2 separate regions of the Homo sapiens genome follow, and region 1 is linked to region 2. The links come from fine-mapping of genetic effects on gene expression. Tissue or cell type: whole blood. Region 2 holds a variant in brackets; the other region holds the start of a gene. All regions are shown on one strand. Distances are from middle to middle.

Evidence for each region. PIP is the estimated chance that this variant, and not a neighbour inherited with it, causes the effect.
Region 1: it holds the start of MAPRE1, and the variant in region 2 is fine-mapped to the expression of MAPRE1 in whole blood (INTERVAL, PIP above 0.99).

Annotation. Positions count from the first base shown.
Region 1 is chr20:32,816,664-32,824,664 of GRCh38, forward strand. MAPRE1 (microtubule associated protein RP/EB family member 1) reads left to right here and starts at 3,291. Exons shown (of 7, transcript NM_012325.3): 1 at 3,291-3,365. RefSeq lists a silencer at 3,008-3,597 and enhancers at 3,670-4,339, 4,340-5,009.
Region 2 is chr20:32,843,490-32,851,490 of GRCh38, forward strand. It overlaps MAPRE1 (microtubule associated protein RP/EB family member 1), which reads left to right. Exons shown (of 7, transcript NM_012325.3): 6 at 3,129-3,281; 7 at 5,183-6,916. The coding sequence ends at 5,239. Among named protein-coding and RNA genes, the nearest start is that of EFCAB8, 11 kb to the right of the region's middle. The variant T/G (reference allele first, on the strand shown) is at 4,325.

The sequences.
Region 1 (8,001 bases), 27 kb before region 2:
GTGGCTCACGCTTGTAATCCCAGCACTTTAGGAGGCCAAGGTGGGCGGATCACGAGGTCAGGAGTTTGAGACCAGCCTGGCCAATATGGTGAAACCCTGTCTCTACTAAAAATACAAAAATTAGCCGGGCATGGTGGTGTGTGCCTGGAATCCCATCTACTCAGGAGGCTGAGGCAGGAGAATGGCTTGAACCCAGGAGGCGGAGGTTGCAGTGAGCCGAGATCACACAATTCCACTCCAGCCTGGGCGACAGAGTGTCTCTGTTTCTTCGTTTTTTAAAAAGAATATAAATAAATAAAATACAGGTAACAGATGTTGCATCAAAGCACTTATAAATATCTTTAGTTGATTATCTATGCTTGACATCAGCTCACCATAATGTTCATATTACTGCTGTCGCTATAATCATTTGTTACATGGTTTTTTATTCTTTATTGTTGCCTCTTTTTTTTTCTTTTTCTTTTCTTTTTTTTTTTTTTTTGAGTTGGAGTCTTGCTCTTTTGCCCAGGCTGGAGTGCAATGGTGCCATCTCGGCTCATTGCAACGTCCACCTCCTGGGTTCAAGCAATTCTCCTGCCTGAGCCTCTCGAGTAGTTGGGATTATAGGTGTCCGCCACCATGCCCAGCTAATTTTTGTATTTTTAGTAGAGACGGGGTTTCACCATGTTGGCCAGGCTGTTCTCCAACTCCTGACCTCGTGATTTGCCGACCTCAGCCTTCCGAAGTGCTGGAATTACAGGCACGAGCCACCGCGCCTGGCTTTTCTTGCCTTTTTTTGCTCAAACTCTGTTTTTTTTTTTTCTTTGAGACAGAGTCTTGCTCTATCACCCAGGCGGGAGTGCAGTGGCACGATCTCAGCTCACTGCAACCTCCACCTCCTGGGTTCAACCAATTCTCCTGCTCCATCCTCCCAAGTAGCTGGGATTACAGGCGCGCGCCACCACGCCCAACTAATTTTTGCATTTTTAGTAGAGACGGGGTTTCACCACGTTGGTCAGGCTAGTCTCAGACTCTTGACCTCGTGATCCGCCCACCTCGGCCTCCCAAAGTGCTGGGATTACAGGCATGAGCCACCACAACTGGCCTTGCTCAAACTCTTTTGCCAAGGTAACTCCTCATCTTTCATGGTAAGTGTCATTTCTGGGAAGCTTTTCCACACTACCTAGGAGAGGTCATGTCTCTTGTGGTGTGCTCTTGGAGCAGTACTCGAGACCGAAGTATTGAAATGCCTCTAGACCTGCTGATAAACAGCTCCTGCCCCAGCTTCCCCACCCATTCTTCCCTGAACGTCTTACTGGGTTTCAGCAACTAACTGGGTGAGATTTGGCCTAGAGGGACCTCTAGGCCCCTGCTCCACACAGTGGAAGTACCATCAGCCCACCACATAATGTCCCTGCCTAGCATTGAGCCTGATTTGTAATTTAACAAGGATTTGTGTCATTAGTTGTGTCCCCTTTGCCTCCCCTGCCAGTCTGGAAACTTTAAGAGGTCAGAAGCTGTGTCTAGTTTTCGTTTTTATCTCTTAGAGATGGAGTTTCACTCTGTTTCCCAGGCCTGGAGTGCAGTGGCGTGATCTTTGCTCACTGCAGCCTCGAACTCCTGGGCTCAAGCGATCCTCCTGCCCCAGCCTTCCCAGTAGCTGGAACTAAAGGCACGTACCACCATGATCAGATTGTGTCTTTTTTTCACCAGGGCCTGATTGGTCAGGGAAAATATTTGTTGAATACTTGAATAAATGATACCCAGACAAAAAAAGTCAGCTTGAAATCTGGATCTACCTCTGACACTGAGTGAGTCAATTGGCCTCTTTGTCCCTCAGTTTCTTTCTGCTGTAAAGTGGTGCAGTTCCTCTTTTTTTCTTTTTTAGACGAAGTCTGACTGCAACCTCTGCCTCCCAGGTTCAAGTGATTCTCCTGCCTCAGCCTCCCAAGTAGCTGGGATTACAGGCGCCCACCACCATGCCCGGCTAAGTTTTGCATTTTTAGTAGAGATGGGGTTTCGCCATGTTGGACAGGCTGGTTTCCAACTCCTGACCTCAGGTAATTCATCCGCCTTGGCCTCCCAAAGTGTTGGGATTACAGGTGTGAGCCACCACGCCCAGCCCAGTTCCTCCTTCAGCCAAGGCTCTCTTGAGAATGTAAGGGCCAGGTGTGGTGGCTCACGCCTGTAATCCCAGCACTTTGGGAGGCCGATGCGGGTGGATCTCTCGAGCCCAGGAGACCAGCCCAGCCTGGGCAACATGGCAAGACCCCATCTCTTAAAAAAAAAAAAAAAAAAAAGAGGGAGTGGGCAAGAGAGAATGTATGTACAGCCATTGGGAAACAACCCGGAACAGGACTCAGGAGGTCCTTGCTCCTGTGGACTTTACAGGAGACAGACAGTAAAGGCACAAGATGCCTTCTTATGGTACTAAGAAGAAAATATGCCGCATGATATTGCAGATGGGGGGGCGGGGGCGTCACAGAACGTGACTTTTTTTTTTTTTTTTTGAGACAGAGTCTTGCTCTGTCGCCCAGACTGGAGTGCAGTGGTGCAGTCTCGCCTCACTGCCACCTCCGTCTCCTGGGTTCAAGTGATTCTCCTGCCTCAGCTTCCCAAGTAGCTGGAATTACAGGCGCCCACCACCACGCCAGGCTAATTTTTGTATTTTTAGTAGAGATGGGGTTTCACTATGTTGGCCAGGCTGGTCTCAAACTCCTGACCTCAGGTGATCCTCCCACCTGGGCCTCCCAAAGTGCTGGGATTAAAGGCGTGAGCCACTGCACCCGGCCCAGAAAGTTGACTTCTAAGCGTTTCCCCAAAGTGTCTATTAGGTATCTTTATGATTCAATAACCCATTCTTACAGAAATTAATTGTAAGCCTGGGAGCGGTGGCTCACGCCTGTTATCCCAGCGCTTTGGGAGGCTAAGGCGGGAGGATCGCTTGAGGCCAAGAGTTCGAGACCACCCTGGGCAACACAGCGAGACCTCCATACATCTCTAAGCAAAAAAAAAAAAAAATTCATTGTAAAAGCAATTTTCTTTTTGGTTACTGCCATAGGGATTTTGTAACTGAGTCACACCGGGCCGAGGCGGGACCTCATTGGCTGCGACCGACCACGTGCCGCAGTCGCCCCGGCGGTCGGGGCCCCGCCCCTCGGCTACCGTTCTGTGGATCAGGGGCCGAGCTCCGCCCCCGGCGCGCGGCTGAGACCCTCTCTATAAAAGGAGCCGGCGGAGGATGGCGAGCCTTTACGTCGGCGCGTAACGAGGGGGTGCGTGTGAGGTCATCGCGCGGGCGGGCGGGCGGGGTCTGGCGGTTTGAACGAGACGAAGACGGAACCGGAGCCGGTTGCGGGCAGTGGACGCGGTTCTGCCGAGAGCCGGTGAGCCGGCTAGCGGGCCCGGGGGGTGCGGCTGGGGGGGCGGCCGCGTGGGCCAAGGCCGGGCGTGCGCGGGCAGGCCCTACGGGCAGCGCCAGGGCCGTTCCACACGGCGGTGCTGTTCGAGCCGGGTGGGGGAAGGGCGGGGCCGTCACCCGGCGCGCGCGGGCTGGGCCTGGGGGCGCGCGCTGCGCTCTGCTCAGGGGGCGGGGTCTCGGGCCGGAAGTGGGCTGCTGCTACGCGGGGTGGGGGTTTCTGGGCCGCCGCTGAGGTGTGGTCCCTGCGCTGCAGCGACTGGAGGTCCCAGGGTGGTTGGGCCCTGGGAGGGTGTGGGCGAGGTGGGCCGTCCTGGGAGCTCTGGGGACGCACATTGTGGGAGGCCGTGTTGCCTGAGGGCCGAGAGATCGGGTGGTGGAGTCAGACCTGGGTTGGGTTCCGTGCGGTGTGACCTTGGACAGGTGCTTTAACCGCTGTGGATCTCAGCTTCCTCATCTGTAAAACGGGGACAGTAATACTACCCACATTAAACTCTTAGCGCGATGTATGGCAGAAAGTAAGCCAGCTCTTGGACTCCCTCCTTTCTTCAGTGTGTGTTTATTGAATGCCCACTAGGTGTTGGGCACCGTGCTAAACCCTGGCTGTTTTCCCGGGAACAAAGATTTGCTCTCCAGGAATCCACATTATGATGAGCAGGAGGACAGTATAACGGGATGGTATCAACAGTGCTAGTTCAGTCCCTACTTCACAGTTGCCCTCGGATGCTGCAGGGCAGAGCTTGACCTCTGCCCCATTTTGGGGATGAGGATCCTGGGGCCCATTGAGGGAGGTTATGCTAGGCCGGGCATCCGCTTCTCCGATGGCATGTCTCTAACAGTAGTAATGATAATAGCAGCTCTTTGTTAGTTGGGCACTTGTTTTGTGTCAAGCACTGTTAAGTGCTCCATGTGGCTTTGTGTCTTTTAATACTAACACTGTCTTTAAGAGAGATTCTCTTCTTCCTTTTTTTTTTTTTTTTGAGACAGAGTTTTATTCTGTTGCCCAGGCGTGCAGTGGCACCATCGCTCACTGCAACCTCCGCCTCCCGGGTTCAAGCGATTCTCGTGCCTCAGCCTCCCGAGTAGTCGGGATTACAGGCGCGCGCCACCAAGCCCGGCTAATTGTTGTATTTTTTAGTAGAGACGAGGTTTCGCCATGTTGGCCAGGCTGTTGTCGAACTCCTGACCTCAAGTGATCTGTCCGCCTCGGCCTCCAAAGTGTTGGGATTACAGGTGTGAGCCACCGCGCCTGGCAAGAGAGATTACTTTCATTTTACAAATAAGGGGTCTGAGACTCTGAGAGGCGGAGTGTCTTATGCAGCCCAGCAAGTGGCTGAACCCCCACCTGGGACTTCAGTGTCTAGGCTCTTAACCTCTTTATTACACTTTCTCCCTGAGGTCCAGAGCTACACATCCAGATGTGCCCTTTGTGGTGGTGCGTCAAAGTGCCTAGCACAGTTTTTGGCACAGAGGGAAGCTTAGGACGTGATGTGCCTTTTGCTTAAGTGTTTTCATGTAGATTTTTGTTTAATCCTTACCACCACTTTGTGCAGAGATACTGTTTTACCCATTTTACAGGATGAGCCATTTGTGATGCAGGAAGATTAAGTGACTTGCCCACGGTCACATAGGTCCTTTCTGGTGGCACCTCCTTCCCCCACTTTACATAGGGCTTATTGTGGTGCCTTGAAAGTAATAGAGTGCTTTAGAGCCAGCGTTGAATTTGTATAGGTTTGGGATCTTGCTAGGAGAGCTGCTGAAGGAAGAGAGATTCCTGGGTAGGTTTGAGGGAGCTTTTTCATGGTGGTGGTGGAAACCTGGATCAGGAAGCCTTGTAAGGGTGAGATTTGTGTGGTAGTCATGGGTCTTCCATGGCTGCCAATGATGGAATTGTGAAGGAAGGGTGAGCTGGAGCTCTGTTTTGATTGTCAGGAGGAGCCAATTAATTGATTGAGTCGGTGGATGTTCATTGTACATCCACAGGGTGCCTAATCCATGTATTTAGTGGCTGCAGCGTTTGTGGAGCACGTGGGACCAGGTATTAATGTACTGCTAATGAAAGTTTTAAATTATATGATGATGAAAGGCCATTAATGTTTTTTGAGCTGGGGTGTGGTCAGGAGACACACATGGCTTTACCAGCTGCTTAGATTTTATAGCAGCATGATGCACACGATACAGTATATATAGGAATGTCGCCATAATAGATTACAATTGCTCAGCTGGGACCATGTCTTTTTTGTTTGAATGTCTCTGGTACCTGATTTTGCGCACAGTATTTTGTTCATTCAAGGATTTTAAACAAGGGAGGCACTTGCTGTGATTTGTGATTCAGGAAATTCTCTCTGGTTTGCTGTGTAAGAACAGATTGACACAGACAAATTTGAAGACTGTTGCAGTGCATCTCCGTGCAAGATGGTGCTGGCAGGTCTCAGGCGCACTGTTTTTGGCATTGGAGATAGGAGGATGAGTGAGACAAGGTCCCTACCCTACATCTTGTTTGTTAAATACCTCTTAAATTTGATGCCATGCCAAATATTTTATGTACCTTATCTAATTTAAACCCTTCTATGACCCTTTTCAGATAGGTGGCTTTAACTTGTAAGGGAACTGAGGTACATTGAGTTTAAGTAACTTGCCTAAGATCACACAACTAATGAGTGACTGCCTCACATTCAAACCCATGTCCTCCTGGCTTGAAATCCTCAGCTGTTTGCATCGAGTGGATTGCTTCCTGGCCCAAATCTGGCTCGAGAATGGTTCAGAAATAACGAGATAATGACAATTCATTGTGGGACTTCCTATCATAAAGGTTTGAATGAATTGCTCTGGAAACATAGGGATTAATTTCCCAGTGGAGTCAGTAACTAAATTGTGTTGGTGTCTTGCATAACATGGTTTTATCAGCTGATTTGGGGAGTGTAACAGTGTTGATGATTTGCTTTCTGACAAGTTTATATAGACACATTTTTCTCTCTTTGACGCTGTTCTGCCAACCTGAAAATAAGTAGTGAGTGCTTGCTATGTGCAAGATACTATGAGGTGCCTGGGAGATGTGAGGGCACGCAGACCTGGCAAGTTATTGACCTCTACAGACCTCAGTCACCCCATAAAAAGGGGACTGGATGGGTGGATTTGCCTCTTCTGGCTGTCACATTCTGTGGCTTGGTGAGTCAGGAGGCTTGCAGCAGCTTAGTGCAGGAGACTGATGTGGAAAGACCAACTCTAGTCACTAGGTGGAGGGAACGAAGTACCGTAAGAGAGCAAGGGGCTGGGATCTCAGGATTGTTCCAGATTGCTCTGCATCTTTCCCCTGCCCCTCCCCACTGGTAATGTTGCTGTCTTATGAAATGAAGAAAATTGTTAAGTGTCTAGGTCACTATGAAGTCTCTGGTATTTCATAGTGTGTCCTCATGGTGACTGCTCAGGGATTTGATTTAGATCTGGATTAGCCTGCCTTTATCTTGAGTCTTCCCTCCCTACTGTCTGTTCTCTACTAGTAGTCAATGTGATCTTTTTCAAACTGTAATGAGAGCAAGATTCTACCGCACTTAAAACCTGAAAGTGCCTGGGTGTGGTGGCTCATGCCTGTAATCCCAGCACCTTGGGAGGCTGAGGCGGAGGATTGTTTGAGGCTGGGCCGCAAAATGAGACCTGGTCTCTACAAAAAATTAAAAAATTAGCTGGGCTTGGTGGTGACCATCTGTAGTCCCAGCTACTTGGGAAGATGAGTCAAGAGGATGGCTTGAGCCTGGGAAGTCAGGGCTGCAGTGAGCCGTGATTGTGGCATTGCACTCCAGCCTGGGTGACAGAGTGACACCCTGCCTCAAAAAACAAACCCAACAGTGGATTTCTTAATAGAATAAAATCCTAACTCCTTCTGTTCCCACCTCAGGCTCTGCTCTCCTTGCTCACTGGGCTGGAGAGCCCTATCTCTAGAGCTTCATGTGGTTGCTTCTTTCTCTGATCCTTAAGCTCAACTGTTCATCTCAGAGAGGCTTCCTCTGACCACATTCCGTAAACCCCGTTGCATAAGTGGTTGGTATGAAATGATGTTTGTTGGTGTATTTGGTCAGTGTCAGACTTTGCACCACTAGAATGTGAACTCCCTGTGGACAGGCACCTTGTCTCTTGCTTTTCTGTATCCTGGTCCCTAGAACAGTGCCTAGCACGCGGTAGAGCTAGTAAACATTTGTAGAATGAGTGACGGTTGACTACACTGGTGCTCATAGACAATAACGCCCACATTTACTAGCATTTGAAAATTAGACTCATTGCTGTGTGTTTATTGTTTTGAATTTGAAAGCCTAGCAGAAAAGGGAGGGAAGAGAATGTGGAGGCTGGGGCTGGGCAGGCTTGCCTGCCAACCCCAGGGCCTCTCTTGTCCTCACCTGTAAAATGAGGGACATGAAGTGAACCTTGCAGAGGGCTGTCAGGGTTAAACAACAAGTGTCTGTGAAGTATCTGGCACTTAGGCCCACAGATGCCCTACCATTGCCAGGTAGCTCTGCAGAGAATTAACTACAAGGATTCTTCACCTGTAAGGTCATTTGATACTGCCTTTTTAATATCTAGGTATTGAAAAGCTGATTTACTTTTTCAAT
Region 2 (8,001 bases):
TTTACATGGTCTAGTAGCTACATTAAAAAGAATAAAAAGAAATAGGTAAAATTAATTTTAGCAACACATCATCTAATATGTAAAAAATAATACTCCAGCATATAATCAAATATAAATAATGATCAATGAGCTGTTTTACATTTGAAGACTCTGCTAGGTCTTTGAAATCAGGTGTGTATGTGATACTTGTAGCTCATCTCAGTGGCACTGGCCACGTTTAAGTGTTTATATAGACACATGTGGTTGATGGCTACTGTGGCCAGTGCAGGCCTGAAACACTGACTTGGGGCTTCTTAGGTTATAACTATTGCTTTACCTCAAGATAAGGTTCTAAGAGTGACCTTAATTACTAGCTACAGGTTTTTTTTTTTTTTTTCTTTTGGAGATGGAGTTTTGCTCTGTCACACAGGCTGGAGTGCAGTGGCGTGAGCTCAGCTCACTGCAACCTCTGTCTCTCAGGTTCAAATGATACTCCTGCCCCAGCCTCCCAAGTAGCTAGGATTATAGGTGCCTGCCTCCACGCCCAGCTAATTCTTGTATTTTTAGTAGAGACAGGGTTTCACCATGTTGGCCAGGCCGGTCTCGAACTCCTGACCTCAGGTGATCTGGCCGTCTTGGCCTCCCAAGGTGCTGGGATTACAGATGTGAGCCACTGCACCTGGCCAAGCCACAGATTTTTAATAACCTCATGAATACAGACTTGAAAGGAGTGCCACGTGAAAGCCAGTGTCTTAGTATATATTTTTTTAGTGATTTAGTGTTTGTTATGTGTGTATAGTTATGAGCAATATCATGGACAGATGCAACTTTTGGCCTTTATAGGTGGGACCCAGAAGGCTGGGTATCTGGTTTGGCCTTGATAATTTGTTGGACAGAGAAGGTTTTAAAGGGTTTGAGAGGGTAGCATTAGTGAAACTAGTGAAACTAGGTGGATACCAAGCTAGCATTCCTTTTTTTTTTTTTTTTTTTTTTTTTTTTTTTGTGGCGTGATCTCAGCTCACTGCAACTTCCGCCTCCCGGGTTCAAGTGATTCCCCTGCCTCAACCTCCTGAGTAGGTGGGACTACAGGTGCACACCACCATGCCCAGCTAATTTTTATATTTTTATAGAGACGGGGATTCACCATGTTGGCCAGGATGGTCTTGATCTCTTGACCTCGTGATCCGCCTGCCTTGGCCTCCCAAAGTGCTGGGATTACAGGCGTGAGCCACTGCGCCTGGCCAGCATTCCTTTTCATAAGCTCTTTCGACTTCCTTTCTTCCTTGGTCATTAATGCCACCAGGCATGTGATTAGAAGGCCCCTTCCCTGCCTTTTGGATTGTGGAGCTGTAGCTCTGAGTCTGCTTCCCGCTGGGGCTGGTCGGCTCTTGGCCTGTGTATCCCCTGCTCTTTGGGGCTGTTGGTTTCAGGAAAGGCAGCAAACTGCAGCAAAAGCAGAGGTGGGGACAGTGAGGGAAAATGGATGATTTAGCTTTGCCGGCCACCAGGCAGTAGCTGTACTGTATGTATGTATGTATGTATGTATGTATGTATGTATGTATGTATGAATGAATGAATGAATGATTGAATGAGACAGGGTCTTGCTGTGTCTCCCAGACTAGAGTGTAATGGTCCATTGATAGCTTACTGCAGCCTTGAACTCCTGGGCTCAGACAATGTTCCTGCTTCAGCCTCTTAAGTATCTGGTACTATAGGCATACACCACCCTACCTGGCTAATTTTTAGATTTTTTTGTAGAGACAGGTTTTGCCATGTTGCCCAGGCTGGTCTCAAGTTCCTGGCCTCAAGCGATCCTCTCACCTTGACCTCCCAAAGCTTTGGGATTGCAGATGTGAGCCACGGCAGCTGGCCCCTCTAGTACTTTATTGAAACTTTCAATTATTTTTTATTTCTGCGGCTGGTAAAGGAATAGTGAAAGGCTGTCTAGAACTGTGATTCTGGTTTGGTCTAACAAGACTTTGATGATGAACTTTGAAATTCGTTTTGATAAAATTGTCCTGGTGGTGTCACCTGATCCTCATCTCTGGATGCTTTTTGACTGCAGGTTATAAAGAGGGTCCTTTCTCCTGGGATGAGACTTGATCTCCTCTGTTGTGTTTGGTGTCTTCATCAGGCTGTGGGGAAGCTAGATAAGCTGTTTATTTCTGTTTTTAAATTTTTATTATTTATTTTTTAAAAAGATGGAGCCTTGCTATGTTGTCACAACTGGCTTTTAACTCTTGGGCTCAAGCAATTCTCCCGACTCAGCCTCTAGAGTAGCTGAGACGCGTGCGCCACTCCACCTGACATGCTTCAGTTTTTGTGGCTGTGAGTTCAGAAGGCTGGACTAGATGATTTCTCTGGTCCCTTCTGGCTTGTAGAATTCCCTTCTGCCGAGGTCGTTCTCAGTGGCTGTACCTTTGATTTTGTTGCTTTACTTTCCATGCTGCTCTGTGGCCCTGACCTGTAAATACAGGTTTTTGCAACTTGCATTCATTGACAGTTAAATGGAATTCACTTGTCATAGATGTGAATACAGTACACTGGAATGAAGATGCCCCATGGTTAAAGTACACACAGGACTATGAGTGTTATAACTTTTATTGGTCTTGGCTAGATAGAGTCCTGGCCTAAGGACTGAGACAGATTTCTTCATAGCCTCTTAATGGGAATCAGAGACCCTCAGTGGGGCTCATGGAGGGTCAGAGCACTTTCCATTGGGCTTCCAAAGAGTTCCATTGAGCCCTTTCCAGGGTCCTTTCTATTGACCCCCTCATGCAATCAGACCTGGACTTGATTGTCCAGTCCCTTGGTAAGGACTCAGTTTATGATTGTCAGCTACCTTGCTAGGCTGTAATTGTCTCAGGCTTCCCTAGTTTTTTCTCCTTAATCCTTTTTCAGTCCCTGAGAAGCTTCTACATGTTTCAAGGGGTAGTCTGCTCTTTCTGGGAGCTGTTACCGTCAAGGTTGCTATAAACAAATCCATGTTGTTTATCTGAGGCTGAAGAAAATTGACATTAAACTGATGTGGTTTTTGTCTGTGTTGGGGTTTGATCAAAGACCACATCTCCTTTTGGGTTAGAAGTCTGCCTGATATTTTATTGCCATACTAATGCCAAGCATCTCACCCTTTTTAATGTCTTGTGCAGGTCAACGTATTGAAACTTACTGTTGAAGACTTGGAGAAAGAGAGGGATTTCTACTTCGGAAAGCTACGGAACATTGAATTGATTTGCCAGGAGAACGAGGGGGAAAACGACCCTGTATTGCAGAGGATTGTAGACATTCTGTATGCCACAGATGTATGTGTTTGACATGAGGATATTTTCTTTCCATTTTACATAGAAGGGTTGGTGAACTCTGTGCTGATGCTTGTTGTATTCCAGTGTTGCATTCATCAAAAGACTTCATCTTTAACCCCTCAAAGTCAGCCAGAGGGCATCTCTGCCCAGCTTTAGCTTCTGCCTGAGGTCTGTGAGCTTTTGAAGAAGGAATAGGACAAGGAGGTGGCTGGCTTGCCCAGCATCTGTAGTATGTGGCCACTGATAGGTGATGAGTGCCACAAACTGCTCTTAGCCAGAAGCAACCCATGTCCTCACTCCACCCCACCTCCTATTGCTTGGATCCCTCAGCTTCAGTTGCTGCCTCCATTTTATCAGGGCCCGGGGCATGCCCGGAAAAGCAGGCACATGCTCCCTTTTTCACGGCGTGCCCACATATCACGTCATGTCTGGGTATGCCTTTCTCCTCCCTCCTAGGAGTTTGCCTGGTTCTCACTCCCTCAAAGTACTCTATGATCAAGTTTCTTTGGATCCATGTTTATTGCACAGTCAAATCTGTTGATATTAATCACGACATGTTAGTTGATCAGGGAAGACTCATTTTTTTCTAGATTTAGGATTGTTATCCGGCTGTGTCCACTGTTTAATGGTGATGTTTGTAATTCTGTGTGCCTAGCAAGGTCTGTAGGATCAAACTACAAACTTCTGGTAGTATGTGTAGCACTATGCAAATACAAGGTAGTAATAATGCTGTTACTGTCACTGTCCTTGAGACATATCTTGTGAATTTCAGGGGATTAAGACAGATGACTGAAAAGTTGATAATCTGTTGAATAAATCTTTAATTTAGAGCTTGCTCTGTGCTATGTAATGAAAAAAAGACAACGAAGATATAGGGGGTCCTTGGTTTAGTCTGAGTATTATTTTAGTGGAGCCACATCTTAAGTAAGTTCAGCTATAGAGATTTAGTTAATAGAAATAAGATGGTGGTTGAAAGAGAAGTCTGATTTTACAGCAGAATAGTATAGTAATTTCCTGCTCTGAGTCCATGCCAGAATGCCCTG[T/G]AGTGAGAATGAGGTGTGTGGGAGTCATGAATCTGCTTTTTCCTTGTGCACTCAATTTTTCTGCCACTGATGTTGGGTCAGTCTTGCTGTTGTGAATATTTTGGGTAAAGCATGGCTCCTAAGTATAACAAAAGGAAGGCATAAAAGGAAAGCTGGCTGCATAGACAGTTTATTGAGAGAAGATGTTAGAGTACTGAACTTTACAGGGGACTTCAGGAATTTTTGAGGGAAATTTTTTTTTTTTTTTAGTGACGGGGATCTCACTTTATTGCCCAGGCTGGAGTGCCTGGTGGTGCGATCATGGCTCACTGCAGCTTTGACCTCCTGGGTCAAGCAGTCCTGCCTCGACCCCGCTGGGGAGTAGCTGGGACTACAGGCATGTCCCACCAGGCTTGGCTAGTTTTTTTTTTTTTCGAGACATTGTCTCACTGTGTTACCCAGGCTGGTCTTGAACTTCTGGGCTCAAGCCTTGGCCTTCCAAAGTGCTAGGATTACAGGCATGAGCCATCACACCTGGCCTTCTTTCTTCTTTAAAAAACAGTTTTATTGAAGTATAACTGACATAATAAACTGCACATATTTAAAATGTACCTTTGATGACATGGGTGAAATTACCACCATAATGAAGACAATGTAAATATGCATCACTTTCAAAAGTTTGAGGGTAAATTTGACTGTGCTCAGTTTTTGTCTTTGGTGAGATGCAATTCTACTACCCAAGAAATAAAATAGCAGTCACCTGGCCTGTATAGAGCCAGGAAGAACCATTGTTTTTAAGAGGCTGTAAGTATGAGGAAAGTGAACTCACAGTAGAAATGGATCTTTCAGTGGCTTTCCCCTCTCATTTTCCTATTTCAGGAAGGCTTTGTGATACCTGATGAAGGGGGCCCACAGGAGGAGCAAGAAGAGTATTAACAGCCTGGACCAGCAGAGCAACATCGGAATTCTTCACTCCAAATCATGTGCTTAACTGTAAAATACTCCCTTTTGTTATCCTTAGAGGACTCACTGGTTTCTTTTCATAAGCAAAAAGTACCTCTTCTTAAAGTGCACTTTGCAGACGTTTCACTCCTTTTCCAATAAGTTTGAGTTAGGAGCTTTTACCTTGTAGCAGAGCAGTATTAACACCTAGTTGGTTCACCTGGAAAACAGAGAGGCTGACCGTGGGGCTCACCATGCGGATGCGGGTCACACTGAATGCTGGAGAGATGTTATGTAATATGCTGAGGTGGCGACCTCAGTGGAGAAATGTAAAGACTGAATTGAATTTTAAGCTAATGTGAAATCAGAGAATGTTGTAATAAGTAAATGCCTTAAGAGTATTTAAAATATGCTTCCACATTTCAAAATATAAAATGTAACATGACAAGAGATTTTGCGTTTGACATTGTGTCTGGGAAGGAAGGGCCAGACCTTGGAACCTTTGGAACCTGCTGTCAACAGGTCTTACAGGGCTGCTTGAACCCTCATAGGCCTAGGCTTTGGTCTAAAAGGAACATTTAAAAAGTTGCCCTGTAAAGTTATTTGGTGTCATTGACCAATTGCATCCCAGCTAAAAAGCAAGAGGCATCGTTGCCTGGATAATAGAGGATGTGTTTCAGCCCTGAGATGTTACAGTTGAAGAGCTTGGTTTTCATTGAGCATTTCTCTATTTTTCCAGTTATCCCCGAAATTTCTATGTATTATATTTTTTGGGGAAGTGAGGTGTGCCCAGTTTTTTAATCTAACAACTACTTTTGGGGACTTGCCCACATCTCTGGGATTTGAATGGGGATTGTATCCCATTTTACTGTCTTTTAGGTTTACATTTACCACGTTTCTCTTCTCTGCTCCCCTTGCCCACTGGGGACTCCTCTTTGGCTCCTTGAAGTTTGCTGCTTAGAGTTGGAAGTGCAGCAGGCAGGTGATCATGCTGCAAGTTCTTTCTGGACCTCTGGCAAAGGGAGTGGTCAGTGAAGGCCATCGTTACCTTGGGATCTGCCAGGCTGGGGTGTTTTCGGTATCTGCTGTTCACAGCTCTCCACTGTAATCCGAATACTTTGCCAGTGCACTAATCTCTTTGGAGATAAAATTCATTAGTGTGTTACTAAATGTTAATTTTCTTTTGCGGAAAATACAGTACCGTGTCTGAATTAATTATTAATATTTAAAATACTTCATTCCTTAACTCTCCCTCATTTGCTTTGCCCACAGCCTATTCAGTTCCTTTGTTTGGCAGGATTCTGCAAAATGTGTCTCACCCACTACTGAGATTGTTCAGCCCCTGATGTATTTGTATTGATTTGTTTCTGGTGGTAGCTTGTCCTGAAATGTGTGTAGAAAGCAAGTATTTTATGATAAAAATGTTGTGTAGTGCATGCTCTGTGTGGAATTCAGAGGAAAACCCAGATTCAGTGATTAACAATGCCAAAAAATGCAAGTAACTAGCCATTGTTCAAATGACAGTGGTGCTATTTCTCTTTTGTGGCCTTTTAGACTTTTGTTGCCCTAAAATTCCATTTTATTGGGAACCCATTTTCCACCTGGTCTTTCTTGACAGGGTTTTTTTCTACTTTAAACAGTTTCTAAATAAAATTCTGTATTTCAAGAGTATCATGTCTTCTGAAATTTGTCTTGCCCTGGGTATATGCTGTTAGGTTCAAGTGATGGGAAACCAGTGCTTCTTTCTTCAGTGAGGACTGATCTTTTCACATCCTTTACTGATTTTTCAGATGTGCTTATTTCTTCTTCTTCTTCTTTTTTTTTTTTTTTTTTTTGAGATGGAGTCTTGGTCTGTCGCCCAGGCTGGAGTGCAGTGGCATGATCTCGGCTCACTGCAACCTCTGCCTCCCAGGTTCAAACAGTTCTCTGCCTCAGCCTCCCAAGTAGCTGGGATTATAGGCACCCACCACCACGCCCGGCTAATTTTTGTGTATTTTTAGTAGAGATGGGGTTTCACCATCTTGGCCAGGCTGATCTTGAACTCCTGACCTCGTGGTCCACCCACCTCAGCCTCCCAAAGTGCTGGGATTACAGGCGTAAGCCACCGTGCTCGGTCAGATGTGCTTATTTCTAAGCTGACTTCTTTTTTCTTCATTCACATTATATTGTACAGCCTCCTGCTTTTTAAAATTCTCGTTGCTGTAAGAGGTTTTTCCTCTCGGAAGTCCAAGGCCTGGCCTATCTGCTGTGAAGCCTTTTCAGGGCATTTCCTTCTGAGAAATATAGCAGGACAGTGCTTGGCAGATGACTGTGGGGAGATTTTTTTTTTTTTTTTTTCTGAAGGTGTGATTCTTTCTTCCTTTCTTTTTTGAGACAGGGTCTCCCTCTGTTGCCCAGTCTGGAGTGCAGTGGCATGATCTTGGCTCACTGCAGCCTTGCCCTCTTGGGTTCAAGCGATCCTCCCACCTCAGCCTCGTGAGTAGTGGGGACTACAGGCATGCACCACCATGCCCAGCTAAACTTTGTATTTTTTGTAGAGATGGGGTCCCCTTATGTTGCCCAGGCTTGTCTTGAACTCCTGGGCTCAAGTGATCCTCCCACCTTGACCTCCTAAAGTGCTGGGATTACAGGTGTGAGCCACTGCACCCAGCCCTGAAAGTATGTTTCAAAGTCAGTTAACATGATCTTAATCTATAAAATAATCTAAAATTGTCACCATTTTTTTCTCCCTTATAAAATTATATGCTATTAGAAAT